Homo sapiens: one gene and its partners. The protein of the gene in region 2 interacts with the protein of the main gene of each other region in a pairwise test. Each region holds a gene or a part of one and is shown on either strand. Other genes may lie near its edges. The genes, in order: UPRT, ERH, TASOR2 and PSMA6.

Region 1 (7,838 bases), on a different chromosome or scaffold from region 2:
AATGAGAATGAAACAGAAAACAAACCCTGGTAATATTACATAACAAGGCTCTTTAACAGCCCCCAAAAATCACACTAGTTCACCAGCAATGGATCCAAACCAAGAAGAAATCCCTGATTTACCTGAAGAGGAATTCAGGAGGTTAGTTATTAAGCTAATCAGGGAGGCACCAGAGAAAGGCAAAGCCCAATGCAAGGAAATCCAAAAACGATACAAGAACTGAATGGAGAAATATTCAAGGAAACAGATAGCTCAAAGAAAAAACAATCAAAAATTTAGGAAACTTTGGACATACTTTTAGATATGGGAAATGTTCTGGACAGTCTCAGCAACCGAATTGAACAAGTAGAAGACAGAAATTGACAGCTTGAAGACAAGGTATTTGAATTAACCCAATCCAACAAAGACAAAGAAAAAAGAATAAGAAAATATGAACAAAGCCTCCAAGAATTCTAGGATTATGTTAAACAACTAAACCTAGGAATAATCCGTGTTCCTGAGGAAGAAGAGAATTCTAAAAGCTTGGAAAACACATTTGGGGGAATAATTGAGGAAAATTTCCCCAGCCTTGATAGAGACATAGACATCCAAATATGAGAAGCACAAAGAATGCCTGGAAAATTCATCACAAAAAGGTCATAGCCTAGGCACATTTTCGTCGGGCTATCCAAAGTTAAGATGAAGGAAAGAATCTTAAGAGCTGTGAGACAAAAACACCAGATAACCTATGAAAACCTATCAGATTAACAGCAGATTTGTCAGCAGAAACCCTACAAGCTATGAGCTATCTATCTTCAGCCTCCTCAAACAAACAAACAAACAAACAAAAAATCAGCCAAGAATTTTGTGTGCAGCAAAACTAAGCATCATACATGAAGGAAAAATATAGCCTTTTTCAGACAAAGGCTAAGAGAATTCACCATTATCAAGCCACCACTACAAAAACCACTAAAAGGAGCTCTAATTCTTGAAACAAATCCTGGAAACACATCAAAACAGAAACTCTTTAAAGCATAAATCATGCAGGACCTATATAACAAAAATACAGGTAAAAGGCCAAAACTAAAAACAAAAAAAAACAGTACATAGACAACAAAGAGCACAATCAATGCAACAGAACCTCACATTTCAATACTAACATTGAATGTAAATGGCCTAAATGCTCCACTTAAAAGATACAAAACCGCAGAATGGATAAGAACTCACCAACCAATTATCTGCTGCCTTCAGGAGACTCACCTAACACATGAGGACTCACACAAACGTAAGGTAAAGAAGTGGAAAGAGACACTTCATGCAAATGGACACCAAAACCGAGCTGGAGTAGCTGTTGTTATATCAGAAGAAACAAACTTGAAAGCAACAGCAGTTAACAAAGACAAAGAGGGACATTATATAATGGTGAAAAGCCTTGTCCAATGGAAAACTATCACAATCTTAAACATATATGCACCTAACATAGGACCTCCCAAATTTATAAAACAATTACTAACAGACCTAAGAAATGAGTTAGACAACAACACAATAACAGTGGGGGACTTCAGTACTCCACTGACAGCACTAGACAGGTCATCAAGACAGAAGGTCAACAAAGAAACAATGGATTTAAACTATACCTCGGAACAAATTGACTTAACAGATACATACAGAACATTTCGTCCAACAACTGCAGAATACATATTCTATTCAACAGTGCATGGAACTTTCTCCAAGACATACCATATGATAGGCCATAAAACAAGCCTGAATAAATTTAAGAAAACTGAAATTATATCAAGCACTCTCTCAGACCGCAGTGGAATAAAACTGGAAATCAACTCCAAAAGTAACCTTCAAAATCATGCAAATACATGAAATTAAATAACCTGTTCCTGAATGATCACTGGGTCAAAAACAAAATCAAGATGGAAATTTAAAAATTCTTCAAACTGAATGACACATACCTCCCAAATAATGACACAACCTCCCAAAACCTCTGGCATACAGCAAAGGCAGTGCTAAGAGGGAAGTTCACAGCCCTAAACACCTACATCAAAAAGACTGAAAGAACACAAACTGACATTCTAAGGTCACACCTCAAGGAACTAGAGAAACAAGAACAAACCAAACCCAAATCCAGCAGAAGAAAGGAAATAACCAAGATCAGAGCAGAACTAAGTGAAATTGAAGCAAAAAAAAAAATATAAGATAAATGAAACAAAAAGCTGGTTCTTTGAAAAGATAAATTAAATTAATAGACTATTAGCAAGATTAACCAAGAAGAGAGAAAATCCAAATGACCTCACTAAGAAATGAAACAGGAGATATTACAACTGACACCAGAGAAATACAAAAGATCATTCAAGGCTACTATGAACACCCTTACACACATAAACTAGAAAACCCAGAAGAGATGGATAAATTCCTGAAAAAAATACAACCCTCCTTGCTTAAATCAGGAAAAATTTGATACCCTGAACAGACCAATAACAACCAGCAAGACTGAAATGGTAATTTAAAAATTACCAACAAAAAAAAAGTCCAGGATCAGATAGATTCACAGAAGACTTCTATGAGACATTCAAAGAAGAATTGAAAACATTCCTTTTGACACTATTCCACAAGACAGAGAAAGAGGGAATGCTCCCTAATTCATTCTATGAAGCCAGCATCACCCTGATAGCAAAACCAGGGAAGGATATGACCAAAAAAGAAAACTACAGACTGATATCCTTGATGAACATAGATGCTAAAATCCTTAACAAAATACTAGCTAACCAATTCCAACAGCACATCAAAAAGATAATCCACCATGATCAAGTGGGTTTCATATCAGGGATGCAGGGATGGTTTAATGTATGCAAGTCAATAAATGTGACACACCACATAAACAGAATTAAAAACAAACATCACAGGATCATCTCAATAGATGCAGAAAAAGCATTCAACAAAATGCAGCATACCTCCATGATTAAAACTCTCAGCAAAATCAGCATAGAAAGGACACAACTTAATGTAATAAAAGCCATCTATGACAAACCCACAGACAACATAATACTAAATGGGGAAAAGTTCAAAGCATTCACTCTAAGAACTGGAACAAGACAAGGATGCCACCCTCACCATTCCTCTTCAACATAGTACTGGAGGTCCTAGCCAGAGCAATCAGACAAGAGAAAGAAATAAGGGGCATCCAAATTGATAAAGTGGAAGTCAGACTGTCACTGTTTGCTGAGGATATGATCTTTTACCTTGAAAACCCTAAAGGCTCCTCCAGAAAGCTCCTAGAACTGATAAAAGAATTCAGCAGTTTCTGGATACAAGATTAATGTACACAAATCAGTAGCTCTTCTATACACAAACAGTACCCAAGCTGAGAATCAAATCAAGAACTCAACCCTCTACAATAGCTGCCAAAAAAAATAAAATCCTTAGGAATTTACCTAAGGAGTTGAAAGACCTCTACAAGTAAAACTTCAAAACACTGCTGAAAGAAATAATAGATGACACAAATGAATGGAAACACATCCCATGCTCATGGATGGGTAGAGTCAATATTGTGAAAATGATCATACTGCCAAAAGCAATCTACAAATTCAATGCAATTCCCATCAAAATACCACCATCATTCTTCACAGAATTAGAAAAAACAATTCTAAAATTCATATGGAACCACAAAAGACCCCACACAGCCAAAGCAAGACTAAGCAGAAAGAACAAACCTGGAAGTGTCACACTACCTGATTTCAAACTATACTATAAGGCCACAGTCATCAAAACAGCATGGCACTGGTACAAAAATAGGCACAAAGACCAATGGAACAGAACAGAGAACTCAGAAATAAACCCAAATACTTATAGCCAACTGATCTTCGACAAAGCAAACAAAAATATGAAGTGGGGAAAGGACACCCTTTTCAACTAATGTTGCTGGGATAATTGGCTAACCACATGTAGGAGAATGAAACTGGATCCTCATCTCTCACCTTATACAAAAATCAACTCAAGATGGATTAAGGGCTGAAATCTAAGACCTGAAACTATAAAAATTCTAGAAGATAACTTTGGCTTACATACATTGGCTTAGCCAAAGATTTCATGACCAGGAACACAAAAGCAAATGCAATAAAAACAAAGATAAATAGCTGGGACTTAATTAAACTAAAGAGCTTTTGCACAGCAAAAGAAACAGTCAGCAGAGTAAACAGACAACCCATATAGTGGGAGAAAATCTTCACAATCTATACATCTGACAAAGGACTAATATCCAGAATCTACGAGGAACTCAAACAAATCAGCAAGAAAAAAAAAAACAAACAATCCCATCAAAAAGTGGGCTAAGGACATGAATAGACAATTCTCAAAAGAAGATATACAAATGGCCAACAAATATATATATATGATGGAATACATATCAAATATATATATATGATGGAATACTAGTCAGCCATTAAAAAAATGAATTAACAGCATTTGCAGTGACCTGGATGAGATTAGAGATTACTATTCTAAGTGATGTAACTCATGAATGGAAAACTAAACATCATATGTTCTCACTAGTATGTGGCAGCTAAGCTATGAGGATGCAAAGATATAAGAATAATATAATGGACTTTAGCAACTTGGGAGGAAAGGGTGGGAGGGGGTCAAGGGATAAAAGACTACAAATATGATGCAGTGTATACTGCTTGGGTGATGGGTGCACCAAAATCTCATAAATCACCACTAAAGAACTTACTCATGTAATCAAATACCACCTGTACCCCAATAACTTATGGAAAAAAATAAATAAGTGAAACCTGAAAGCTTTAAAAAAATAAAACAAATGTTGAAATTATTGCAAAAAAATGGGACAGAAAAACAAGGGAAACTATCATTTTATCTGATTACAATTGCTACATTAATTATCCTTTGTGTCAGGGACTGTGCCAGGTCAGACCCCCTTTCTGCCTCCTTGGAGTCCAGTCTAGTTAGGTATACCAGGATATGCCCAGTAAATGTTATAACAGAGGTCCGTATAGCTTAGTGGTGACTTCCTCCTTCCTGCTCTAAAAGTCAGAGGACTCACACGGGAAACACACAAAAACCGAAAATATGTCCATGTTTTAAACAATTTGCACGTCACAGTTTTTTTCTGCGGTGGGCATTTTGGTTTTGTGCAAGCTGGAAGGAAATGTTGGGAGATTCCTCCAGTGTTGATGTAATGCTAGGTCAGGCTCTCTAGCCTAGTTCTGTTTAGTGTGTGGAATCCCTGGATCACCATATCTATAGCCCGAATCAGCAGGCTAGCAAATCAGCACACAAGGGAGACTGGCCATTCTCCCAGGGGCAATGGCCCAGTCTAAACACAGCACAATTACCTGTGGTCAGGTTTTACTCAAGACTATACAAACAACTGCTAAGGATGGGAGTCAGGAACTTGTATTTTAAAAAAAGAGAGAGAGACTCCACAGGCAATTCTGATGCACACAGCTTTGGTTAAGGACAATACATTACTTAGTCACATAACTCAAATCACATTAGATTGCACTCACATTAGGGTTACACAGGATGTTCATTCACCCTAAGGATAATTTTCTCCCCTCCAGGTGACTAAAGAGAGTCACAAGGCTGAATGTGCTCCTTTTTTTGTCCTATGTCACATACTGACATACTCTAACATTGCTAAACTTTTAAACAAGCAGCTTGCTGAGGCCATGCCAAAGCCCCACCTAGGACAAATACACAGGAAGCATTCAACAGCTCACACAACAGCTTTAATGTTTCAGGAAACAAAAAATAAAAAACAAAAAACTGGACAGGGAGGATGATCTTTTAAATACACTGCATTGCCTTTAAATATGAGGTCATGAACTATATTCACAGGAAAAGCACATTACTCAGATTTTGCTGAGTTTAGTATATAAAGGAGGCAGAAGAGAAGGATGTGTGGTTTAATCCATTGCAACAACAACAAAACGACATAAATGAAGAAATTTTTTCTTATCCCAAGTTCACCAGCAACCCACATACGTATGGCTGAGCAAATAATCTACTCAGTGTTTACTGCACTTTCAAAGAGAGAAATTTATTTCCTTGAAATTCAATAATACAACCAACATATTATGTTTCAAATATTGCACATTTCAAAATCTAAAAAGACATTTTAAATCAATACAGACAATGTTCTCAATCTTGCCTGTTTCACATATATACAACAACATGCAGTCCTGCTGGCTCAATCCCGATTTCCCCATACCAAAGTCAATTCACAAAGCAATCCCTTCACTATATAGATGCTAAGGACCAGAAACAATAAAAGAAAAAATATGTACTCCAGTGGCTTCTATTATCGGACAGTTCCACAGTGCACATTTATGCTGTCACATCAAAATAGAGAAGAGAATAAGCCCCAAAGAGAACAGGGTATGATAACTGATGGCACCTTCCATAACTAGACCTATGTAAATATAGCTCCTCTTACCATAGGCACCTTAAACCAGCCTCCTAGAGGGGCTAAAACAGGTCTTGTGAGAGAGGATGACAATTTTTTAAAGATAAAGGGAATATAAAGCCTCTAATTTGGTTAACAAAAACAAAACTAAAAACAATGTCCCCAGCCTAAATAAGCAGCAATACATTACTAAAAATTGTGGTGGGTCTTTCCATACTATATCAAAACAAGATAAAAATTATCTACAATATCCCAGTATTCATTTTCAAGATAAAAAAGTGAATTCCACATAGAGTTAAATTCATTTTACTGTCTTCTGACAAATCAAGAAGACAGCACTTATGAATGCAATTAGAAGCATGCACAAATCCAAACATGAGGCTTGAAATTCCTTAAATGTGAACAGCTCTTCACAGTTCATAATGAATATTCATGAACAGTATCTTGTTTTAGCCTCCCAGGGGCTCCATGTGATATTTACCAACATCTTCATTTTACAAATGATAAAGGTGAAGCACAGAGATGCTAAACATATTGCCTAAATCACTTCTCTGGATCCTGCTGTCTCCTTCCAAACTTAGAGGAAAAAAAAAAAAGGATTCCACTTACACCCAGGTTTACTACATAACCCAGGTTTTTCTGACTAATGACATATAATCAGGTATTATTTTGTCATATGTGAATGCTAAATGCCATTCCCTCTCCAAGCGCTATAGCAAGGGCACTTCACCTTTACATTATCATGACACTTTGTGAAATCTAAAAAACTAAGGAATCCTCACCCTCTAAAAAAAAAGGCACATATGTGAATGTTCATAGCAGCATTATTCATAATAGCCAAAGAGTGGTAAACCACCCAAATGTTCACCAACTGATGGATAAACAAATTGTGGTATATTCATATAATGGAGTATCATTTAATCATAAAAAGGAAAGATCCCACACGGATGAACCTTGAAAACATGCTAAATGAAATGAGTCACAAAATGACCACATATTGTATGATAATGAAATGTCCAGAATAGACATTTTTTATATGTAATGTGCAGAATGGGCAAACCATTAGAAATAGAAAGTAGATTAATGATTGTCTAGGGCTTTGGGTGGGTTGGGTGAAAATGGGGAGTGACTGTTTAATGGGCATGAGGTTTCTTGCTGGGGTGATGACAAATGTTCTAAAACTGTGGTGATGAATGCACAGCTGTGAACATACTTAAAACCACTGAATTATACACTTTAAATTCTTGAACTGTATGGTCTGTGAATTATATCTCAATAAAGATGTTATTTAAAAACAACTATTAAAAATCTTCATATGAGTAAAATTTCCCAGTTAATTTATGAGGGTTTGTTAAAGCCCTGAACCCATCTACTGGTACGAGGGAGTCGAAGACCCAAGCGTAGTAACTTCTGCTCTATAGAAACA
Region 2 (7,838 bases):
GACATGTTTTTTCTAGATAACTAGCATTTATGTCACTTAGCCATTCATCATAGTAGTCTTAAAATAGTTGACAGCGGGAATAGACTGAAAAGGTGTATTCTCCTTTTGTGGGAATAAGAAAGGAGAGTATCAGGCCGGGCACGATGGCTCAAGCCTGTAATCCCAGCCCTTTGGGAGGCTGAGGCACGCTGATCACCTGAGGTCAGGAGTTCAAGATCAGCCTGGCCAACATGGTAAAACCCCGTCTCTACTAAAAATACAAAAAGTTAGCTGGGTGTGGTGGCGGGTGCCTGTAATCCCAGCTACTTGGGGGGCTGAGGCAGGAGAATCGCTTGAACCCAGGAGGCGGAGGTTGCAGTGAGCCAAGATCTCATCATTGCATTCCAGCCTGGGCAACAAGAGCAAAACTCCATCTCAAAGAAAAAAAAAAGGAGAGTATTATTGAATAAAAACTAAATAGATAATATACTCTATAGCTAATTATAATTAGTAATGTGGGCTTGCTATTAATGATTTTGCTCATTATCTTTTTTATTATATTTAAGTACTTATATCCTTGTTCATGTGCTAATGCTTTATGTGTATTATTTCAAATAAACCTCACAATTCTATGAAGAGGCACTCTTAACTCTGTTTGACAGGTGTGGTTCAGGGAATGGCGTCGTTTGTCCTCGGTTTGACAGGGGCAGAGTTGGAACTAAAGTCTGTCTGAATCCATAGTCTAGGATTTTTTGTTTGTTTGTTTGTTTGAGACAGAGTCTTGCTCTGTCACCCGGGCTGGAGTGCAGTGGCCGATCTCGGCTCACTGCAATCTCCACCTCCCAGGTTCATGCCATTCTCCTGCTTCAGCCTCCCGAGTAGCTGGGGCTACAGGTGCCTGCCACCATGCCTGGCTAATTTTTTGTATTTTTTTAGTAGAGACAGGGTTTCACTGTGTTGGCCAGGATGGTCTCTATCTCCTGACCTCGTGATCCGCCCGCCTTGGCCTCCCAAAGTGCTGGGATTACAGGCGTGAGCCACTGTGCCCGGCCTAGTCTAGGATCTTAAATATACATTAGGATAATCTCTTTCCTTGTTGCCAATTTTTTTTTTTTTTTTGCTCTGTGGCTTTAGGAAGAATTACTGAAAAACCTGTTAAGACCCACAGTGTTATTTGTTTGAGCCATCAGATGGCAAGTCTTTAAAGCCCCTTAGCTCCAGTGGTTTGAAGTAATCATTTTATTATTAAGACACAAAATAGTTACATCAACATTGTGGTGAATTTCTCAGCTGCCCAGACTGGAGTGCAGTGATGCAATCACGGCTCACTGCAGCCAAGTGATTCTCCCACCTCAGCTTCCCAGGTAGCTGGGACCACAAGCACACGCCATCACGCCTGGCTAATTTTTTAATTTTTGTAGAGATGAGGTCTCCCTGTGTTGCCCAGGCAGGCTGGTCTTAAACTGTGGGGCTCAAGTGATGCTCCTGCCTCAGCCTCCCAAAGAGCTGGGATTACAGGCGTAAGCCACTACACCTGACCTGGTGAATTTATAAAATAAAAAAGTATTTGCTAGTGGCAATAATCAAAAGCCATCAATCTATCATCTTTTCCCCAGCCCAACTTTATTAAAGTAAATATGATATCAACATATAGCACAGCTCATAAGCACTGCTCATATCTAGAAGTGTATGCGATTGTAAGATTTTGCTTTTTTTCCTATCCTTTCTTAGGTGTTTGTAAAATGTATGAAGAACATCTGAAAAGAATGAATCCCAACAGTCCCTCTATCACATATGACATCAGTCAGTTGTTTGATTTCATCGATGATCTGGCAGACCTCAGCTGCCTGGTGTAAGTATTAGCCAACATGTCTTTTATCTTGTATTTTCTATTGCTTTTCTGTCTGTTTGAGGTGATTTATGGTATTGGGAGCTAATTATGTGCCTGATACTGATCTTTGCATTTGCATAGTGTATAGTAATTAATATTTCTCTTACAGAAATAAGAGATTGGCAACATAAAGCCAAAGGCACAGAAAAAAATAACTTTGCTAATTGATATAGTTAGTATCCAGAAAGGATCCTAATTCAGAAGTTCCATGTGCCTCTTCTTTGTTCCTTATACCTAATTTTTTTTTTCCTTTACAGTCTTTGTCTTAAAGCCATTGGTTTTGGATTAAAACTAAGATTATCTTTTTTTCATGACATTTCAAAAACTTAAATATGCGTATAGCTGAAATTTAATTTCAATCCTACGCTGTGTAAGTACGTATATTTTGGTATGTTAGAGTGAGATTTTTTAACATATTTGTTATAGTTTGTATTGATAATCTGCTTCTGACAATTACTAACAAGGAGCATAAAGTGTTACTGTAGACTTACCTAATCTTTTTTACATTAGCGAACAGAAATTGAGTGTAAATACAGCTCATTTAACCGAGGAAAATGGAAGCACCTTATGATACAATACTCAATCATCAGATACTTGAATATTTATTACATGTCAGGTGCTGTGCTAGAAGTTGAAAGAGCAGTGATGAGAAATATACAAGTCTTACTCATAGGCACTTCCTGGATCACCACTGGAGCCAATCATGGAATGTGGCTGCACCATGCTGTCTCCCCAAAAGTTCCAAAACACGCATTTCCTTGGGATGTTTGAGTTTTGTTTTCTGTACCTCTTCATTGTGTTCCGGTTGTAGCCATTTCACTTTGATCACTCAGAACATTCAAATGAATGTTGCATGGTACTTTAAGCCATTCAGACATCTATAGGAAAAACATACCAGACAGAGGGGATGAGGGACAGCTAGTGTAGAAGTCCTGAAGTAGGAGTGCCTAGCATGTTTGAAGTCATTAAGGAAGCCTTTGAGGCTGCAGAGGAATGAGTGAAGGAGAGTGTCTTAGGAGATTGGAGGAGCAGGGAGCAATGATATCCTGGAAGCCAAATGCAGAAGTGTGTCATATCATTGATAGGACAGATATGTGAGGACTGAGAATTTAATTGACCCCTGGATTTGACACTGTGGAAGTCTTTGGTGACTTCCAGAACGGTTGTGGTAGAGTGCCAGGAGTAAAATGCTTACAGATTTCAGTGTATGGAAGGGAATGAAAAGAGAGGATTTATAGGTGGCCATTACAGGCTTGCTTTTTTTTTTTTTTTCCTTTTTTTTATTTAAAGAATTTTGCTTGAAAGAACAGAAAAATGGGGTTGTAGCTGGAGAAAGAAATTGCTTTTTTTTAAGTGGGAAAAGTAATGGTAAGTTTGCAGGCTGATGGGATGATGTACCAGAGAAGGAGAAACTGATAGCTCAAATTGGCTCTTGGACAGTTCAATCATAAAAAAGGGAGGACAGGCAAATTTGGGAGCTGGGGGGAATTATCTTCTGTATGCTTCAGTTATCTCAGAAAGATAAGGAGCAAGGACATCATTTGAAACAGGTGTTACAGGTTTGTGGAAAAGTAAGAAATAAGCTAGGAAGGTGAAAGAATTAGGGAACTGCAATTAATTCAGGGATGCATTAAGTGTCCTCCAAAGTACCTATCTGATAGTGATTTAAAGTGAAATCAGTCATTGTGATCATGGGATTTTTTTCCTAGTCTCTCTCACCTGGATGGTTACAGGTGAGGAGTAGGTAGAGAGTAAAGATTTTGCTAAAGGTTGAGGGCATATATGAGGACAACAGCAACGACTGAATGACCATGAGCTTTAATTGGGGGTGTAGGAGGAGGTGCTGGAAACAGAGGTAGATCAGTTCATTGTAGGTCCCACTGGATCAAGGATTGCTCACATTAGAGTGTTAGGAAGTGGTGATCAGAGAATGACATGCTTGAAATTAGGAAATTGAAGTAGTTGGAAATGACAAGGTCTAGGGATCTGGCCAAGAGAGGGTAGGAGATGAGATCATTAGAGGAAAAGACTTCATGGAATTGGGAGGCCTAAGTGTTGACAGAATCATCCACTGGATATGAAATTACCAATAATGTGTATATTAATTGATAGAATTTAAGAAGAAGTTGCTTTGTGTTTGTTCACTGCTGCATCTCTGGTACATAATTAGTGCTGAGTAAATATTGGTTATATAAATGCACGTCACTTGTGTTGTTATTTGAGGAATAGCTTTCTAAAATTATTGATAATTTTCTATTTCCCTTATTTATATTACAGAGCTATATTCTGCATTGATTAAAAATTAATGGTTGTCTTTATGGTTTTATAAAAGAACCTTACTGAAACATTCAGGATGTAATCCTGACGCTTTTGGGATGTCATACTTACTCCCAGTAAGTGGGAAGTAAACTTGAAGCAAAGGATCATGTTTTACTTGTCTTGGGAGGCTGTGGTTAAGAGCTAGCTGGAGTGGCAGAATTAGACATAGCTGGGTTTGAATCCTGGGTCTACCATTTGCTAGCTCCCTTTGACAAGGCAGCTTTGTATTGCTAAACTTTAGTTTGCTAATTTGTAAAATTCAGACAAATCTAGTTCATAAGACTCCTTGTGAGGATCAAGTGCTTGCTGAGCACAGCATTATTAGATATGCAGCAACTCCCTTTTCAACTAGATTGAAGAAGTCAGGATAGAGTTTTATTTTTAATTACAAGCATGTTCTTAAATTTGCCAGGAGTAGAATGATATGAATTTTAATGTCTACGTGTGAGATAAATTATAAATTTCAAGGGAGATTTAAAAGGTGTTGAGGTTTTTTCAACAATATGAAAATTGAGCAGAGTAAAACAGTTACAAGTGACATGTTAATGATATACAAGTATGTCATTAATGACATAACATAACTTTTCTAACTTTGTACTAGACTTTATAAAAAAAAAATTTTAGAGACAGGGTCTTGCTATATTACCCAGGCTGGTCTCAAACTCCTGGGCTCAAGTGATCCTCCTTCCTCAGCCTCCCCAAGGAGTGATATTACAGGCATGAGCAACTGTGCCCGGCTGCATTAGACTTTAAAATGTAAACTAGAAACCATATCTAGCATACTAAACTGATTTTTAATACAATATTTGCTATATTAAAGCAACATAGGGGGAAAGCTTTAATTATTACCTAGATAATTCTTCCCACCTACAGTATTTCCAGAAATATAGAAGAGAGGTTAATGATAATTTATGGTTTTTTAGTAGTTTCAGAGTGTTAAAAACCGTAAATTATCATAGCTTGAAAACCTGTAACTATTTGTTTGTTTCTAATGTTGAAAATTTTTTGGCCTCTGAAAAACTTTCAGAATCAAATTTAGGATTTAAAACTATTTTCCCCAGGTGACTTTGGTTATGTCCTTTTTGTTCTTTGAATATTCAGGAGAAATAAGGTATTGTTTCCAAAGAGGTAACCCACTGCCACAGCACATCCTGTGATTTGGGCCGTTACTCCTCAGACCAGAGACTGGGTCCGTTTTTGGTTTGTAGATGGTTGTGTGCTCATAGTTTCTATTAAATTTACATGGCAGTGACCTAGGACTTTTTTAAATTAATTCTTTTTAAACAGCGTAGGTGGAAATGGAATAAATAAGATTCTACTTTGTAACATGACTAAACCCAGAGCAAACTGACCATGCATTAATAATAAAATGTAGGCATGAAAATTTGTATTTCGTATACTTAAAGTCAGAGTCAGATTTTTCCAGTTTTCTGATCTGTATGTTTTTTAAATAAGCTTTTTGTAAGATGAAAATAATGCCCTTTTGATTATGCAGTATTTTCTTGTTTGCTTAGAGACATAAAGAACATTTAAACTGTCAGTTATTATAATGACAAGAGGTATTCCTGATCAGTAAGAGAAGTTATCACTGAAGACATTTCTGATTTCACTGCCCAGACCCACAGCTTCTGTTCTTATATAAACCTACATTCATTGACCATAACAATAGGTTAAAAGATTCATCTGTGCCAATGACTAGGCATTTTATTAAAGTATTTAACATTTAATTGTCTCATTTTCAAGTGCCAGTTAACAGCCATCGACACACAGCTTTCCATAAAGAAGGCATTATTGCTTTTTTTTTTTTTTTCTTTTGGAGATAGAGTCTTGCACTGTCGCCAGGGTTCAAGCGATTCTCCTGCCTCAGCCTCCCGAGTAGCTGGGACTACAGGTGCGCGCCACCACGCCCAGCTAATTTTTGTATTTTTTTTTTTTGGTGGAGACGGGGTTTCACAATGTTGGTCAGGATGGTCTTGATCTCTTGACATTGTGGCCCGCCTGCCTCAGCCTCCCAAAGTGCTGGGATTACAGGCATGAGCCACTGGCACCTGGCCTACTATTTGATGAGTTGGAAAATTGCATGCAAGTTGATGGATTCCTTAATGTTCACAAACCAGAGTGATTTTTGTTGGGGGGAATGGTATAAACAAAGCCTGTCCCACCCAGATATGATAATTGTGAGAAATTTTGTTCCTTTTTAAGTTATTTTCCAGTGTTAATATAAATGTTATAGTCTCTTCTGCTACATTTTGCAGTAGACTAGCTTAGAGCTTATTTAATTAGGAAGCATGGACAAAGAGTTTTCAGAAAAAATTAAATTTTAGAATTTTTAAATTTGGTTAAGCATTTTTAAAAATGGGAATCTTGTACATTTTTAATAAACCAGATTGTGACCTTACTGTTCAGAGGAAGAATATGATGTTAATTGTATAAAGCATTCCTACTTTGGAATTTATTTCCCTTGCCAAAAATTGTAGTTTAGGTTTCTAACTTAGTGATTAACAGTGAGGACTCTGGAGTCAGGAGTATTTAAAATCTATCTCCAGTCCAGCATTACCTAGCTAATAACTTGCTTCACTTTTTAAAGCCTTGGTTTCTCATTTATGAAAAAGGAGGCCAGGTGCGGTGGCTCACGCCTGTAATCCCAGCACTTTGGGCGGCCGAGGCGGCTGGATCACTTGAGGGTCAGGAGTTCAAGACCAACCTGGCCAACATAGTGAAACCTGGTCTCTACTAAAAATACAAAACATTAGCTGGACGTGGTGGCACACACCTATAGTCTTACCTACTCAGGAGGCTGAGGCAGGAGAATCATGTGAACCCAGGTGGCAGAGGTTGCAGTGAGCCAAGATGGCACCACTGCACTCCAGACTGAGTTACAGAGTGAGATTCTGTCTCAAAAAAAAGCAGGGGTCGGTGGTGGGGGTGGTGGGAAGTGAGGATAATTGTACCTACTCACAGGGTTGTAAAAATGAGTTAATTCAGATAAGAATTTAAAGCGACACCCAGTACTCTGTGACATCTTACTAGATACTACTCACAGTCCCATTGGAGTTTTACTGCTAATGCTAGTCTGTGTACTCCTTTTCGTTCTGATTAGAGATATTTTGGAGCTTACTGTATCTTCTGATAATTCTTCTCCATAGGCCTCTAGCATTATTTATTTTAAAAAGCAAATCCTAAAATATAGGTTTAAGATTTCCTTAATACTTTACAGGGGGAAGGAAATTAGCAAGAAATCTTTGTTGCCAGTACATGTTTTTTAAAGGTTTTTTAGTTAATTCAGAATAAACATTGCAAATCTAAAGTTTGTTCTAGTATTGTTGTTTTTGTTTTTTTGAGATGGAGTCTCACTCACAGGAGTGCAGTGGCACGATCTCGGCTCACTGCATCCTCCACCGGTTGAAGCAATTCCCTTGCCTCAGCCTCCTGAGTAGGCAGGACTACAGGCGTGCACCACCATGCCCAGCTAATTTTTGTATTTTAGTAGAGACAAGGTTTCACCATGTTGGCCAGGCTAGTCTTGAACTCCTGACCTCAAGTGATCACCCGCCTCAGCCTCCCAAAGTGCTGGGATTACAGGCATGAGCCACTGCACCCAGCCAATTTTTTTGTTGTTGTTTTTTAATCACTAAAGGAACCATAAAAA
Region 3 (8,086 bases), on a different chromosome or scaffold from region 2:
AACCCAGGAGTTGGAGGCTGTAGTGAGCTATGATCACATCACTGCACTCTAGCCTGGGCGACAGAGCAAGACACTGTCCTAAAAAACAAAACAGAAACAAAAACACAAAACTGTTAGGTTTTGATGAGTATCAAAAAAGAACATAATCATCTGAAAAGATTATTAAAATATTCATCTCTTTTCTAACTACTCAGCTGAATGACGCTGGATTTTCTTCATGCACTTCAACCAAAATAATACATGGCAACACAATGAATACAAAAGCAGATGAGACTCTAGTCATTAAAGGAGACCTTCAGCGTATTTGCAAAAATGTACAAAAATCCCATTCTTGTCACTAATTTTGGGGAGATAAAATATGTTAAGATGTAATGGGTTATTATATTTAAAGGTACCAATAAATAAACATACATTTCAAATTTATCAGTTTTAATATCTAATACGGTAATTATCAATTGATATAATCCAATAAACAAAAGATCTTTGGGATCTTCAGCAGTCTTTTGAGACGGAGTCTCACTCTGTCACCCAGGCTGCCGTAGAGTGACACAACCTTGGCTCACTGCAACCTGTCTCCCAGGTTCAAGTGATTCTCTTGTCTCGGCCTCCCGAGTAGCTGGGACTACCTGCACCTGCCACCACACCTGGCTAATTTTTGTATTTTTAGTAGAGATGGTGTTTCACCATGTTGGCCAGGCTGGTCCCTAACTCCTGACCTCAAGTGATCCACCTGCCTTGGCCTCCCAAAGTGCTGGGATTACAGGCGTGGGCCACCGTACCTGGCCCCCTCAATGGTTCTTAAAAAGTGTAGAGGGGTCCTGGGAATAAAGTTTCTAAATTGCTAAACTATAGGCACGTGCTTTAACATGAGTGAATCTCAGAAACAATGTTTAACAAAAGTAACTCATAGAATACAGAATGACTTTATTTAAATAAAGTTCAAAAACAGGTAAGAGTAAACAATGCTAGTTAAGGATATCTATATAGGTGATAAAACTGTTTAAAAAGGCAAGGGAATAATTAACACAAAATTAATAATGGCCAGGGTAACGGGGGGCAGGGAACGCATTCCTCCTGGGGTAGAAACACACAAAAGGTTTCCAAACTAACTAAAGTTTCTAAAGCTTTTATTAATTTTTGTTATGAAATATACCATTAACATGTACTGACAAAAAGCATATTTATTACACAGATACGCTTTGTCAGTACATATTAATGACATATTTCACAATAAAAAATTTTTAAAGAAAAGGGAGATGTACATATTCTCTTAGAAGGAAAAACTCAAATAAATGTCTCTTCTCAGATTATATATTCAACACCATCACAAACAATATCCCAAGATTTTCTATAGGACTTAAAAAGATAGTTTTAATTTCTTCTGGAAGAAAAAATGCAAAAGAAAAACCCAAAGCTCTTTTTCAAAAGAAAGTACCAAAATATATTATAAAACTATGATAATTAAAATGCTACAGTAATAGTTACATGGGCGAAAGAAAAGAGAGCTCAGACTCAATAAAAACATCAGCAAATGATATGACCTGCCTAAAAAGATTTAACTTTTGTATTCACCAAGGAAGATAAAAATTAAAACAGAATGTTACTTTCAATTACTAGGTGGCTAAGATATTTTAAAAATACCATTATCATCCAGTGCTGGCTAGCATGGAGATAAAAACACATCTTTTGAGCGAGTGAACATAAAAAGGTACAATCATTTCAGGGCAATTTAGCAACATGGTTATCCAGCACTCTCATAAGGAGTCAATTCTACAGAAATACTATCATGACCACCTGAAGCACTGTTTATAACAGCAAGAGATAATCACTGCAGTATTGTCAGTTATAGGGATATCTTGAAAATAACTTGAATGTCTACCAACAGAAAAATGAAATTCACTTGATAAATACATGCCATATTGATCTATTTTTACTGAATAGATAGTATACTGTATTTAACAAACACCATGTCTCAGTCAAGTTCTTAGGCACTTCACCGATTTTAACCCATTTTAACAACTATGTTTGGACCACAGGAGATGCTTATAATCTCCCTTTAAAAAAATTAGTTACATTTGGGCAAATGTTCTGTATACACAAAACTTCAAATATACCGTCTTGGTCTTCCTTAACATAATTGTGGACCTTTTGTCACCCTTTTTCTGGCCTGGCTTAGTTATTTATTGATGTACAGTACAGGACATACCGCATACAGTCACCCATTCCTATAAGGCAGTTTTTCGACAGAAGGGTATTCTTGCACCGTTAGGGGACACTGCTTTGCTATAAACCTCCTAGGCAGGATTACCGCCAGGCTCACCCCTAGTTTTATTCAGGGAACACTGTAGACTCTAGGATCGCGAATGCCATTCCAATAATACCATACACTTGTACGCCACATATTTAAGTTTTGGATACACTTTCATAAACTTTTCTATTCTAATTGTACCTTACAGGGAGAATAAGGAAGAGTAAGCGTGGTTTGTTTAAAGTTACAGATTTCAAATAGACAAGAAGCGACTAAGAGAAACTTGAGAATTCCCAAAGTAATCTTCCTCAAAATTTCAGTCATCAACCCAGTTCTCCCACGAAACGCTGCTTGGCGCCGCCTTCAGACAAACTTCTGTGTTGCTCGCACCAAGTTATCCCAACGCGGCTTGCGCTTGCTGCTGAAATGACCCTCCCTTCGGAGAGACCTGTTTTACCCTAAAAAGAAAAGGTGGCGCATTGCCATGAAGTCTCGAGTAGCAGCAGGCTTCACGCAGAACCCGCAGGAAATGATTTCCCAGCCGGTGCAAACCCGAAGACGGAAACTTCAGCCAAGAACTTATCAGCATATCCCTGAGGACGCAGCTGTCCCCTGACAGGCGACGCAAACGAAACGCCTCAGAAAGGGGCAAGATGACACGGTTAGGATCTCCCTGCCGGCGACACCGAGCGCGGCCACAGGTTGTAGCGCAGGACAGAAGGTTGAGTCATCTAGAAGGCGCCGACCCCTCCCACCCCCTCACCCGGAGCGCGGCAAAAGGCAAGGAGAACGCGTCGACCCTCGCAGCCAAGCCCCGGCAGCTGCCCGAGCGCTCGGCCTCGGGGACCCGCCGTCCTCCTCGCAGGGTTCCCGGGCGCCCAGGCCGAGGAGGGACTTACCCGTCCTTGGCGTGGCCGCCGCCCCCGAGGACCTGAGATCCCGGCTCGGCCTCCTTCCCATGCTTCTCCCGGCCGTGCTCTGCGTCCTCCCGGGCCCTCGCGACACCGGCGCACGTGGGAAGCACCAGTCGCCGGCTCCGCGCTCCCGCGGGGACCCCCCTCAGGGGCACGCCGTCCGCCCCAGCCCCGGGGTCCTCGCCGCGGGCGCTGACAGGGACGCCGCGGCCGCCCGCGCTCTGTCTCCCGTCAGGGTCACGGGCAAGAGGCAACCCCGGGACGCCCGGCAGCCTGCGAGAACATGCCGACTTTCTCTCTGACCGGCGCTAGCAACCGGAAGCAAAACCTCGCGGCCAAAGGAAAAGAAAAGGGGAGGGGGGGGCAAAAAAAGAAAGTGAAAACTGAAGTGAGGCGTCTCCCTCAGAGATGGGAACCAATCGCCGGGAAGAAACCAAGGCGCAGGCGCGGACCGAGGTCAGCGTCCACGCGGCGCTCGCGTCTCCCCTCTGCGCAGGCGTAAGGCCACAGCTCGCTCCTGATTAGGCGGCCGATCCCAACGAGCGCGTGGTGTCTCGCGTTGCCGACCCTTGACAGGAGGCGGAAGATGCCCTTGGGAAGAGGCGGGAGACGCTCTCTCGGCTGACCTACAGTGCTGTGGCTGTGGCCCACGTGGTCGCCTTCGGGCGCCTTCTCCCTTCTCAGCGTTTCATTCCCCAGGTGCTGCTGCAAGAACAGTTTATTTGTCTGGCCCGAATGCGACATTTTGGAAATTTTGCCCTTGTTTTAATCCATATAGTAGGTGTGGCTGTTACCCCCTAGGAAAGCATCTCTAGAAATTTATAACACATGCACAGAGAGCTAAGGTGACCATCAATAAATTCAGGTTTACCCTTGCCCATGATAAATAGTCATGCAAACATCATTTAACTGTAGGGACACCTTATGAGAGAGATGCCTCATTAGGCAATTTGGTCCTTGAGTGAACATCACAGAAACCTAGAAGCATAACCTACTACATACTTACACCATAAGCCATAGCCCATTACTCCTGGCTACAAACCCATGCTATATGTTATTGTACTGAATACTGTGGACAATTATAACACAATGGTAAGTATTTGTATAAGCATATCTAGACATAGAAAAGGTACAATAAAAATACAGTATGAAAAATAATGGTACACCTGTGTAAGGCATTCTCACGAATGGACCTTGCAGTACTGGGAGTTGCTCTGGGTGAGTCTGTGAGTGAGCAATGAGAATGTGAAGGTCTGGGACATTACTGTACACTCTTGTAGACTTTATAAACACTGTACACCTAAGCTACACTGAATTTATTTTTTTAAATTTTTTCATAATTAACCTTAGCTTACTGTAACTTTTTAACTTTTTAAAACTTTTAAAAAACTTTTTAAGACTCTTTTGTAATAACACTTAGCTTAAAACAAACACATTGTACACAAATATTTTCTTTATATCCTTAATCTGTAAGTTTTTTTCTATTTAAAAATTTTTTTAATTTACTTTTTAAACTTTTTTGTTAAAAACTAAGACACAAACACACATTAACCTGGGCCTACACAGGGTCAGGATCATCAACATCATTGTCTTCACCTCCATTTTGTCCCACTGGGGGGCTGGGATTACGGTGGAGCCACTGCGCCTGGCCATGTGTGCTGTACTTTTATATGACTGGCAGTGCAGTAGATTCATTTACACCAGCATCACCACAAACATATGAGTAATGTGTTGCTGTACGAAATTAAGATGGCTACGACATCACTAGGCAATAGAACTCTTCAGCTCTATTATAATCATATAAGATCACTGTTGGATATGTGGTCTGTTGTTAACTGAAACATTAAGTGACATATGACTGTACCAATGAGAGAGATTAAGTGCTAATGAACATGTATCATGAGTCAAGCACTGTGCTGGTAATACCAAGAGATTCAGTCATTGTGTTTACTGTTTACTGTAACCAGGTGCTGTAATAGACACTGGTTTTACAATCATGAACAAGCTAGATAAGGACCCTGCCTATAATGGAATTTATTCCAGAGGTGAGTGACAAACACAGGTAAATCACCACGACAAGAAAATAGAATCTCAGATAACAATACATGCTGTGAAAACTCACTGGAAATGCTAGTGGATGGGACTGGGGGCTGGAGGCCAAGGGCAGAAGTAGTGGAGCTACAAGATCTTACTGAAATGGGCACATCTGAGGTCAAACCCTAAAGATCAAAACTGATAGAACCAAAGCTTGGAATACGTGGAGGAAGAGCTTTCCAGGCAGAAGGGAAAGCAAGTGCAAAGGACTTGAGAAGTGAAATGAAACCTATTCAAGAACAGAAGAAGGCTGACTGTGGAAGTAGAGAGTGAAGTACAACAACATTTTAATAGTGCACAAAACCGGAATGTACAACTCCATGATTTATCACAAGGCAAATATTCATGAAACCAACACCCCCATCAAGAAATAGAACATTGCCAGTACCCCATCCCTCTTCCCTAGCCTAAGCACTATTCTGACTTCCATGGTACTCTCTTCTTTGCTTTTAAAAGTAAGTTTGCCAACTAAATATGCACCCTGAAACTTTATCATTTAGTTTGCTTGTGGTTTGAACTGTATATAAAGTGAATAATTTTGTGCCTGCTTGTGAGACTCACTGTGTTTTTGGGTGTACTTGTTCTTTCGTTTTCATTGCTGTATATGTAGGCGTGAATGTAACACATTTGCTTTACCCATTGTATTATTGATGGACATTTGGGCTGTGTCCAGTTCTTGGCTATTATAAATAATACTTTTGTGATCATTCTCATTTACATCTCTTGGTGTACATGGGCACTCATTTCTGTTGGATGAAAACCTAGGATTGGGATTTTGGAATGCTAGACATGATAATTTAGATTTTTGTTTCTGCAAATATTTATGCCCTTATTCCCCACGGTTGGCCAAGTTTCCTTCTCTACTTCATTGACGTTGGGCTTGGTCTAAGAGAGGTCTTTTGGCTGATAGAATATCAGCAGACATGACACAGCAGGATTCTTCAGTGTGCTCGTGCTGTTTGAGTTGGCTCCTGTGCTCAGGTGATTCATATGTGGAGAAAATATCTCGCGTAGCTGTTGTCTCTTCAGCCTGAGTCTCCAGAACAAACCTATGTGGAACAGATGTGACACCAACCCACAGTCCAACACACTTTGGATTAACAGAGCCTTAGACATCCTGAAGATCAAGGATTCTGAAAGTTAATGCTGTTATCAAAAGCTAACCGAGTTTGGGGTGATTTATTATAGGGCATTATTGTGGCAATAACAAGGGCATATGTTCAACTTTAGCAGATCATTTCAAACTTTTTGCAAGCTGGTTTTACTAAGTTATACAGTTCCACAAAGATAATTCTAGTTCGTCTACATCCCTGCCAATACTTTTGAATTGTAGCCACTCTGAAGGGTGTGTCATGGTTTGAATTTGCATAGTATACAATGTTGTTCTTTTTCAAGTATGTTTGGCTATTCTAAGTCTTTTTTTTTTTTTTTTGAGACGGAACGTCACTCTTGTTGCCCAGCCTAGAGTGCAGTGGTGCAATCTTGGCTCACTACAACCTCCGCCCCCCACCCCCAGCCCCTGTTCAAGCAATTCTCCTGCCTCAACCTCCCTAGTAACTGGGATAACAGGTGTCTGCCACCACGCCTGGCTAATTTTTTATATTTTTAGTAGAGATGGGGTTTCGCCATTTTGGCCAGGCTGGTCTCAAACTCCTGACCTCAGGTGATCCACCCGCCTCGGCCTCCCAAACTGCTGCGATTACAGGCATGAGTCACTGCACCCGGCCCATCTATTCTAAGTCTTTTAAGTTTCTGTATACATTTTAGAACCAGCTTATTTTCTACCTCAAAAACAACCTGTTGGGATTTTGGTTGGGATTGTGCTGAATGTACATATCAATCTGGGAGAGAATTAACATCTTACTAATTGTCAAATTCTACTTATTCAGGTCTTTAAAAATTTCCTTCAGCAATATTTATAGTTTTCAGTGTACAGCTCTTGCACATATTTTGTCATATTTATCTCTTTGTTTTTGATGTTATTCTTAATAGTACTAAAAATTTTTGCAATAATTTGTTGCTAGTATATAGAAATAAAATTGATTTTTCCATATTAACTTTATATCTTGTAGCTTGCCGAAATCACTTATTATATCCAGTAGCTATTTGTTTGCACATGTGTGCATTCTTTATGCTTTTTTAGGACATTTTCTGCAAATAAAAATAGTTTTACTTCATTGTTTCTAATTCGTATTTCTTTTCTCCTTATTGCATCAAGGCCATTCCATTAATGTAATGTTCAATATAAGGAGTGAAATAAAATATCCCTGACTCAAAAAAAAAAATCCTTGTCTTGTCTCTCATCTTAGTGCAAAAGCATTTAGTTTGTAACCATTAAGCATAATGTTAGCTTTGGTGTTTTGTACCCTTTTTTAGATTTATGAATTTCCCTTCTGTTCCTACTTTTTGAAAGTTTTTCTCATAAACGGGTGTTGAATTTGGTCAAATACTTTTCTGCATCTATTGAGGTGATTATATAGTTTTTCTTTTCTGATCTACTAATATGGTGAATTACATCAATTGATTTTTCAAATGTTAAATCAACAGTGAATTCCTGAGATAAACCCAATTTATTCTGGATTCATTATCCTTTTCATATATTATACTGGATATGAATTGCTGATATTTTGTTAAGGATTCTGGCATTTGTATTCATACAAGATATTGGTCTATGTTTTTGTTTTATTTTTCTTGTGAGGTCTTCAGTTTGGGTATGAAGGTAACTCTGGCCTCATCCAATGAGTTGGGAAGTTTTCTTTCTTAATTTTCAAAATACTTTGATTTAAATTGGCAGTATTTCTTCATAAATGTTTAATATAATTAATCAGTG
Region 4 (7,901 bases), about 34 Mb from region 2:
AGGCTAGGCACTGTTTGGTATTGAGGATACACTGGTGAACAAAACAGATGTGGCTAGTTGGGCATGGTGGCTCACGCCTGTAATCCCAGCATTTTGGGAGGCCGAGGTAGGCGGATCACTTGAGGCCAGGAGTTTGAGACCAAACTGGCCAACATGGCAAAACCCTGTCTCTACTAAAAATGCAAAAATTAGCCAGGCGTGGTAGTGCACACCTGTAATTCCAGCTCCTTGGGAGGCTGAGGCACAAGAATCACTTGAACCCAGGAGACGGAAGTTGCAATGAGCCGAGATCGTGCCACTGCACTCCAGCCTAGGCGACAGAGCGAGGCTCCATCTCAAAAAATAAGCCAAAAACAACAACAACAACAACAAAAACAGATGTGGCCACCACCCTCAAGGAGCCTGATTTTTAATCCTAGCTTTCAATTTATGTTTGTGTTGAAAATGAGGTTGATTCCTTCCAGGAAGTATCCTTTAGAGTATTAAAATATATACACCATCCAAAATCCTATGCCCAGCTTAAATACCATACCACAAGAGGGGATGAAGATTTGTTTGAATGTGTGAAATAATTCTCATAGACTGCAGGGTGCGTAATATGTGTGATTTGAAATATCCCATCACAGGCCAGGCATGCTGGCTCACACCTGTAATCTCAGCACTTTGGGAGGGCAAGGCAGGAGGACTGCTTAAGCCAAGCTTGTCCAACCCATGACCTGCAGGCTGCATGTGGCCCAGGATGGCTTTCAGTGTGGCCCAACACAAATTTGTAAACATTCTTAAAACATTATGAGATTTTTTTGCAATTTTTTTTTTAGCCCATCACTTATCATTAGTGTTAGTGTAGTTTATGTGTGGCTCAAGACAATTCTTCTTCCAATGTGGCCAGGGAAGCCAAAAGATTGGACACTCCTGGCTTGAGCCTAGGAGTTTGATACCAACTAGTAACTGTCACAAATGAATTTAAATTCAGGTTTAAATAAAAAAGGATGAACTAACTCCCACACCATTAGGGATTCATTCATTCAACTAATATTTATTGAGCACTTAATATATGCTGGTTATTGTTCAAGTTGTCTGAGCTGTATCAGTGAACAAAACAAAAATCCTTGCCATCACAGAGGTTAAATTGTGGGTGGGCATGAGGGACAATAAACAGTGAACAAATTTATGATTTTTTTTTTTTTGAGACAAGGTCTCACTCTGTTGCCCAGACTGGAGTGCAGTGGCATGATCTCAGCTCACTGCAACCCCCACCTCCCAGGCTCAAGCGATTCTCCTGCCTCAACCTCTCCCGAGTAGCTGGGATTACAGGTGCACACCATTACTGCATGGCTTTTTTTGTTGTTGTTGTATTTTAATAGAGATGAGGTTTCACCATGTTCGCCAGGGTGGTCTTTAACTCCTGACCTCAAATGATCCACCCACCTCAGCCTCCCAAAGTGCTGGGATTACAGGTGTTGCACCACGCCCAGCCTAAATTTATGAATTATATAACAGAAAGAAAAAAGATACTCAGGAGGCTAAGGCCAAAGGATCCCTTGAGGCCAGGAGTTTGAGGCTGGCCTGGGCAATACAGTGAAACCTAGTCTCTAAAAAAAATTTTTTTTAAACTAGCCAGGACTGTTGGTGTGCAGCTGCAGTCCCAGCTCCTTGGGAGGCTGAGGCCAGAGGATCACTTGAGCGCAGGAGTTCAAGGCTGCAGTGATCATGCCACTGCACTCCAGTCTGGGTGACAGAGCAATACCGCATTTCAAAAAAAAAAAAAAAAAAAAAGGCAGAATAGCAGAGCAGGAACAAATGAAGGCAGAGGGGGAGAAGTATTAAGAAATTAAGACTGCTACAAAGTTTTGGCTCTGAAGACTTGGAAAATGTGGTACAAGGGGCAGGAATTCGCTTGAGAGGGAATAGATGAGATAAGGAGTTCTCTTTCAAACGTGGGGTTTTGAGGTGCCATATGTCTCAATGTGAAAAATATCCCATTGGCAATTAGAGAAGATCCAGTTCCAGAGAAGGGTCCAGCTAGAGACCTAAATTCAGGAGACATCAGTATAGAGCCAGCTGTTGAGGCTGTGAGACTAAGTTCATCCTCCTAGCAGCCTTACCGAGAACTCTGACTATGCAGGCAAACAGTAGGAATTACAGTATACCAGGCTCTTTCAGAGTCTGAGAAGACAAAAGTCTTCAAAAGGTCAAGAGGAGTTGGTCCTGAGAGTAGGGACCTGAACCAGAAGCAAGGGAAAACTTTTATCAGTCCACTTGGGAACTAGCCAGTGCTGGAAAGTACCCTTTGTGCCAGAGATGCTGTATGCATTTACCGTTTTCTTAACCATGTTTCAGTTTGGGATTTTTTAGATTAATAAAATAGAAATTAATTTTTAAAAACACTTGAGAAATTGGAATTCCCTTATGAAGGTCTTAGAACATTTTTTCTTTAAAATAGAAAGTTAGTTTAGGAAATACATTAAAGGAGTAAGAATCCCTACTTCAGTATTACAGCAGGCATTACAGTGCCACAAACATTAGTGTATCTTGCCTTCCTTGTACACAAACCATCTTTATCTGGGGAGAAAAACAACTATCCTAACATTATGTTTTGCATTTTGTATTCATTAAATGGGAGTGTGCCTTGGGGAAAGTCAAAATAGGCACAAATTTGCGATTTGAAAAGCCACCTGCTCTTCTCCCGGAGCTACCTCGCCAGCTTGGAATTACTCTCATTAATCCATGCAACACTAGCTGCTCTAAGCCCCATCCCCTCAGCTCTAGTTCATTATTAATCAAGGGTGCTTAACCTCATTCCCCATTACTCGTATTTCAACCTCAGTTCCACATTTTTTTTTTTTTATTTAGATAGATCTTCCTCTGTCGCCCAGGCTGGAGTGCAGTGGCGTGATCATAGCTCACTGCAACCTGGATCTCCTGGGCTCAAGCCATCCTCCCACCTTAGCCCCCCGAGTAGCTGGGACTACTGGCGCGCGCCACCACGCACAGCTAATTTTATTTTTTGTAGAGACGGGGCCTTCCTATGTTGGCCAGGCTGGAGTTAGGCTTTCTTTCTTTTTTTTTTTTTTTGAGACGGAGTCTCGCTCTGTCGCCCAGGCTGGAGTGCAGTGGCATGATCTCGGCTCACTGCAAGCTCCGCCTCTCCGGTTCACGCCGTTCTCCTGCCTCAGCCTCCCAAGTATATGGGACTACAGGCGCCCGCCACCACGCCTGGCTAATTTTTTTTGTATTTTTTAGTAGAGACGGGGTTTCACCGTGTTAGCCAGGATGGTCTCAATCTCCTGACCTCGTGATCCGCCCGCCTTGGTCTCCCAAAGTGCTGGGATTACAGGCGTGAGCCACCGCGCCCGGCCTCCGCTTTCAAGACTAAAAATTGCCTGGGCACTGTGGCTCAAGCCTGTAATCCCAGCACTCTGGGAGGCCGAGGAAGGTGGATCACTTGGGCTCAGGAGTTCGAGAGCTGCCTGACCAACATGGCGAAACCCCGCCTCTACTAAAAATACAAAATTAGCCGGTCCTGGTGGCACACGCCTATAATCCCAGCTACTCGGGAGGATGAGGCAGGAGAATCGCTTGAACTCAGGAGGGGGAGGTTGCAGTCAGCCGAGATCGCGCCATTGCACTCCAGCCTGGGCAACAAGGGCGAAACTCTGTCTCAAAAAAAAAAAAAAAAAAAAAAAAGACTAAAAATTGTCGGGGCTGCTGGCCAAAAGAAGATCTTGCCTGGCTGTCAGAAAATAATGTTCTTTCCAGCGGCTGCTTGAACCCGCTTCCTTCAGTGCCTAAATTTAACGGCTGCAGCTGCAGCTGCAACCTGTTTCCCCCGTAATAGGAATGAAAGTGGAGGATAAAAGAGGTTAGGAAGAAGGCAAGCCAGCAGTCTGACCAGACACAGGATGCATGTAAGAGACTTGTTAATTACACGTTCTATTTAGGTCACACTGATAGGCAAATCGCTATTCTGGGCCCCCAGGAAGCCTTTTCGTCCTTGCTATAGTCAATTCATTCTCCAGATGAAAGCCTGAAAGCGCCACGACCCAAGTTTCACGTCTATCCACTCAAGAGGCCTGCTTGGCGCAGGCGCATACCTTCAAAGGCCTCCCGCCCTCACTCCACCACCCCCTTAGGGGGCGGGGCCTCAGAGCTCAGTGCTCGAACTGGCTCCAGAGCCGTGAGTTCGGCATGCAAGAGCGGAAGAAACGCGGCTGGTACCCCGGAAGCAGTCGCTGCAACTTCCGGGAGGTGCTTGTGTGCCTGGTGCGGGAGCTACGGGGCCCAGGGATTGTGTTTAAAGTAGTGCTTCTACCAACATGTCCCGTGGTTCCAGCGCCGGTTTTGACCGCCACATTACCATTTTTTCACCCGAGGGTCGGCTCTACCAAGTAGGTGAGTGAACCAGGTTCGCCTGTGGGCCACCTGAATTGCCCTGTCATGGTACGTGCCTGGAGCGAGCAGACGCGGCCCGGGTTTAGTCTGGGGCCGAAGCTGGGCTGGAGCTGGGAAGGGAGAACGGCTGAAGCTGGATTGAGCTCTGTGGTGTTTGCACCCCCGTCTGGACGCAGGGATCGGGGGCCTGAAGGCCTGTCTCTGCAGGGCGAGCGGCCACACTGCGTAGACCCAATGGAGAGTTAAGGAAGATAGGGCTGTAATGCCTGACTCCGGCTTCGTGAGGCCCCTTCAGTTATTGTATTCTGTCCTGGCCAGGCACAAGGTCTGTTTCTAAAGGGTAATTGATTCCTTAACGTCTCAACTAAAATGCCTCCTCTCCGTTTTCCTTTGTTTGCAGCATGGACTTCTGTGGTTAATTCCACACAGGCACTCGAAGCCTGCTATATACCAGACACTGCTAGTCCTAGGAGATACAAATGTGAATGTTACACCCTCTTCTATACTGAAGCTCACAGCTTAGAGTGACAGATACGTTAAACAAACGGATAAAAAAAATTAAAAGTGCCAATTTACAAATATCTACAGAGTTCAAGACATCTTTGGGAATCTGATAGAATGAGTGACTCAATTCTAGAGCTGCTCTTGAGATTGGCATCCCCTTTTTACCCACATCTGTTTGAATGCTCCTGTAATTTAAATGCCGATTCTGAGTTGTAGATGAGGTACTGTGTACTAGTTTACTGAAGAACACCTGTAGTGGAAAGAAACTATCAGTTACTCGGAATAGTAATGTATTGCGCTGAAACGGTGTCAAGGTTTAGGTTATGATTATAAGCCAGACCCTTGATCTCTTACCATAGAGAATTTAGTGTCAGGAGGGCTTGATTTACATCTGGTCCGTGATGGTTTTATTTTTGAATGAGTTTAGTGGCTCCGTGTCTTGCACAGTAATATAATCATCTGTGCTTGGAATCATAAGGAGAGAGTTGGTCTGTAAATGAGGTTCTCTTCACCTGTAAATTTTAGAAATAGAGTTAAAGATAACTTGGAATGAAACTGCTCAGTGTATTACTGCATAGTGTATATAATGTAGCAAGAAACATCTTGTTGGATAATTCAGTAGCCCTTTTAATTTATCCCCAATTGAAAAACATGATTAAAGATAGAACAAAGAGATAACTGTATCCTCAAAGAATTTTCATTTATTGTATTAAATTCCTGAGTTTTAAATAATTTTCGTATATTAGACTACTGCTTTCAGCGTTCCATTCGTGATTTTTAATATGTGAACAGGAAAAGTCACTCTGAGACCTTTACTTTGTTTCTATATACTGTATTGTGAAGTCCAGCCATAAAGCATAATCGTTAATGCTTCCCAGATTTGGTGAGTGGAAAGGCTGAACACAGTGTCATTGTGATGGTTTTAAAAGATTTGGAAGAGAACATCTATCTGAAAACAAGTTCATTATCTAGACAGAATGATTTTTTATTTATTTTTATTTTTTTGAGACAGAGCTTCACTCTTGTTGCCTAGGCTGGAGTGCAATGGCGCGATCTCGGCTCCCCGCAATCTCCGCCTCCCGGGTTCAAGCAATTCTGCCTCAGCCTCCCAAGTACTGGGATTACAGGCATGCGCCACCACGCCTGGCTAATTTTGTATTTTTAGTAGAGACGAGGTTTCTCCATGTTGATCTCGAACTCCCAACCTCAGGTGATCCACCCACCTCGGCCTCCCAAAGTGCTGGGATTACAGGCGTGAGCACCGGGCCTAGCACCAGCCTAGACAGAATGATTTTAATCTCTGTGAATAACACACTCCCTCTGCTATTCAGGGCATTAATTAGACATTGTTAGGAAAATGAAAGTGAAAGAGTAGTATGAGCAAGCAGTATAGTGAAGAGTTCAGGCCCTGGAGTCATACATGGATTCAAATCTCTGCCCTGCTCCATACTACCTGATCTGGGCACTTGCCAGGTATGTAACCTTAGCCTTAGTTTCTCTTTCCAAAGTTGGGCTCATAATAATTCTTCCTTAAATGGTGGTTTTGAGAATTAAATAAGGCAATGTATGTAGAGTGCTTAACGTGTGCCTGCCACATAGTAAATGCTCAGTGAATGTTATTAGATGCTTGTTTGATTCTTTGGCCCCCCCTTTTTTTTTTGGTCTATTAGATTAGTAGCTCTGTATGGAATATTTCCCTTTTTATGGGTCCTTCCATGCTTAGTTCTCCAGTAAAATATATACATAATCATAATATTCTAAATACTGTCTGTTTGTAAACTTTAGAATCCTCCAAAGACAAAGCATGGAAGGATTATAGGATGCAAGTTGTTAACATTGACAGTAGGAAAATAATATTTTAAAAATGGGATGATGATGAGGGGAGATTAATGGAAGGTAACTATGCTCTTTATCTTCCATACTTGGGACTCAAAAGATAAATGTCGTCTAAAGTTGATATATCAAAAAATAGAGGTAGACATTTAAAGTTATAATGCTTGGCCAGGTGCAGTGCCTCACACCTGTAATCCCAGCACTTTGGGAGGGCGAGGTGGGCAGATTACCTGAGGTCAGGAGTTGAAGACCAGCCTGACCAACATGGTGAAACTCTGTCTCTACTAAAAATACAAAAAACTAGCTGCTTGTGCTGGCGTGCCTGTAGTCCTACCTCCTCAGGAAGCTGAGGCACAAGAATCGCTTGAACCTAGGAGGCAGAGGTTGCAGTGAGCCAAGACCGTGCCATTGCACCTCCAGACTGGGTGACAGAGCTAGACTCCATCTAAAAAAAAAAAAAAGTTGTAATGCCAATCATAATTATAAACATACTTTATAATTATTAATAACATATTATTGGCAGTGTTTGCTCCCAGGGAGTGGAGAGAAAGACTTTTTCTTTTTTTTTTTTTTCCCTTTGAGACAGAGTTGCGCTCTTGTTGCCCAGGCTGGAGTGCAATGGCCGTGATCTCAGCTCACTGAAACCTCCACCTCCCAGGTTCAAGCGATTCTCCTGCCTCAGCCTCCCAAGTAGCTGGGATTACAGACATGTGCCACCACTCCTGGCTAATTTTGCAGTTTTAATAGAGATGGGGTTTCACCATGTTGGTCTGGCTGGTCTTGAACTCCTGACTTCAGGTGATCCACCCACCTCGGCCTCCCAAAGTGCTGGGATTACAGGCATGAGCCATTGCGCTCGGCCTGAAATATTTCTCTTAATGTACATATGCAGGTTGTATGTGTGTGCATGTATTCATTTGTTAAAAATTGTAGAACACCTAGCTTTGTAATCTATTTTCAGGAATTGCCCAAGTTACTAGAGGGAGGAGGTGCATTGTAGGGGGAATGGGACTGAGGCCCTAGTTGGCCAAATTCAGCCTGGCTACTTGTAGGCCCTTCTCTTCTGTTTGCTGATCCTTTGCTGGATAGGTCTGGCAAAGGAGAAGAGGAGTGGTCATTTGGATTTGCTTGACAGGTGTATGTGAGCACTGCCTGGTTGCTACAAAGAAGGG

What was found.
Region 1: the proteins of ERH (region 2) and UPRT interact in binary tests that used the Homo sapiens proteins (3 or more experiments, as listed by UniProt).
Region 3: the proteins of ERH (region 2) and TASOR2 interact in binary tests that used the Homo sapiens proteins (3 or more experiments, as listed by UniProt).
Region 4: the proteins of ERH (region 2) and PSMA6 interact in binary tests that used the Homo sapiens proteins (3 or more experiments, as listed by UniProt).

Annotation. Positions count from the first base shown.
Region 1 is NC_000023.11:75,276,579-75,284,416, reverse strand, and holds part of UPRT (uracil phosphoribosyltransferase homolog), read right to left. Parts: intron 1-7,838.
Region 2 is NC_000014.9:69,380,956-69,388,793, reverse strand, and holds part of ERH (enhancer of rudimentary homolog), read left to right. Parts: intron 1-1,710; coding exon 1,711-1,831; intron 1,832-2,456; exon of another isoform or gene 2,457-2,748; intron 2,749-7,838. UniProt on the Homo sapiens protein: May have a role in the cell cycle.
Region 3 is NC_000010.11:5,680,237-5,688,322, reverse strand, and holds the start of TASOR2 (protein TASOR 2), read right to left. Parts: upstream 3,486-8,086; 5' UTR 3,148-3,485; intron 2,707-3,147; exon of another isoform or gene 908-2,706; intron 1-907.
Region 4 is NC_000014.9:35,288,161-35,296,061, forward strand, and holds the start of PSMA6 (proteasome subunit alpha type-6), read left to right. Parts: upstream 1-4,221; 5' UTR 4,222-4,316; coding exon 4,317-4,392; exon of another isoform or gene 4,393-4,440; intron 4,441-7,901. UniProt on the Homo sapiens protein: Component of the 20S core proteasome complex involved in the proteolytic degradation of most intracellular proteins. This complex plays numerous essential roles within the cell by associating with different regulatory particles.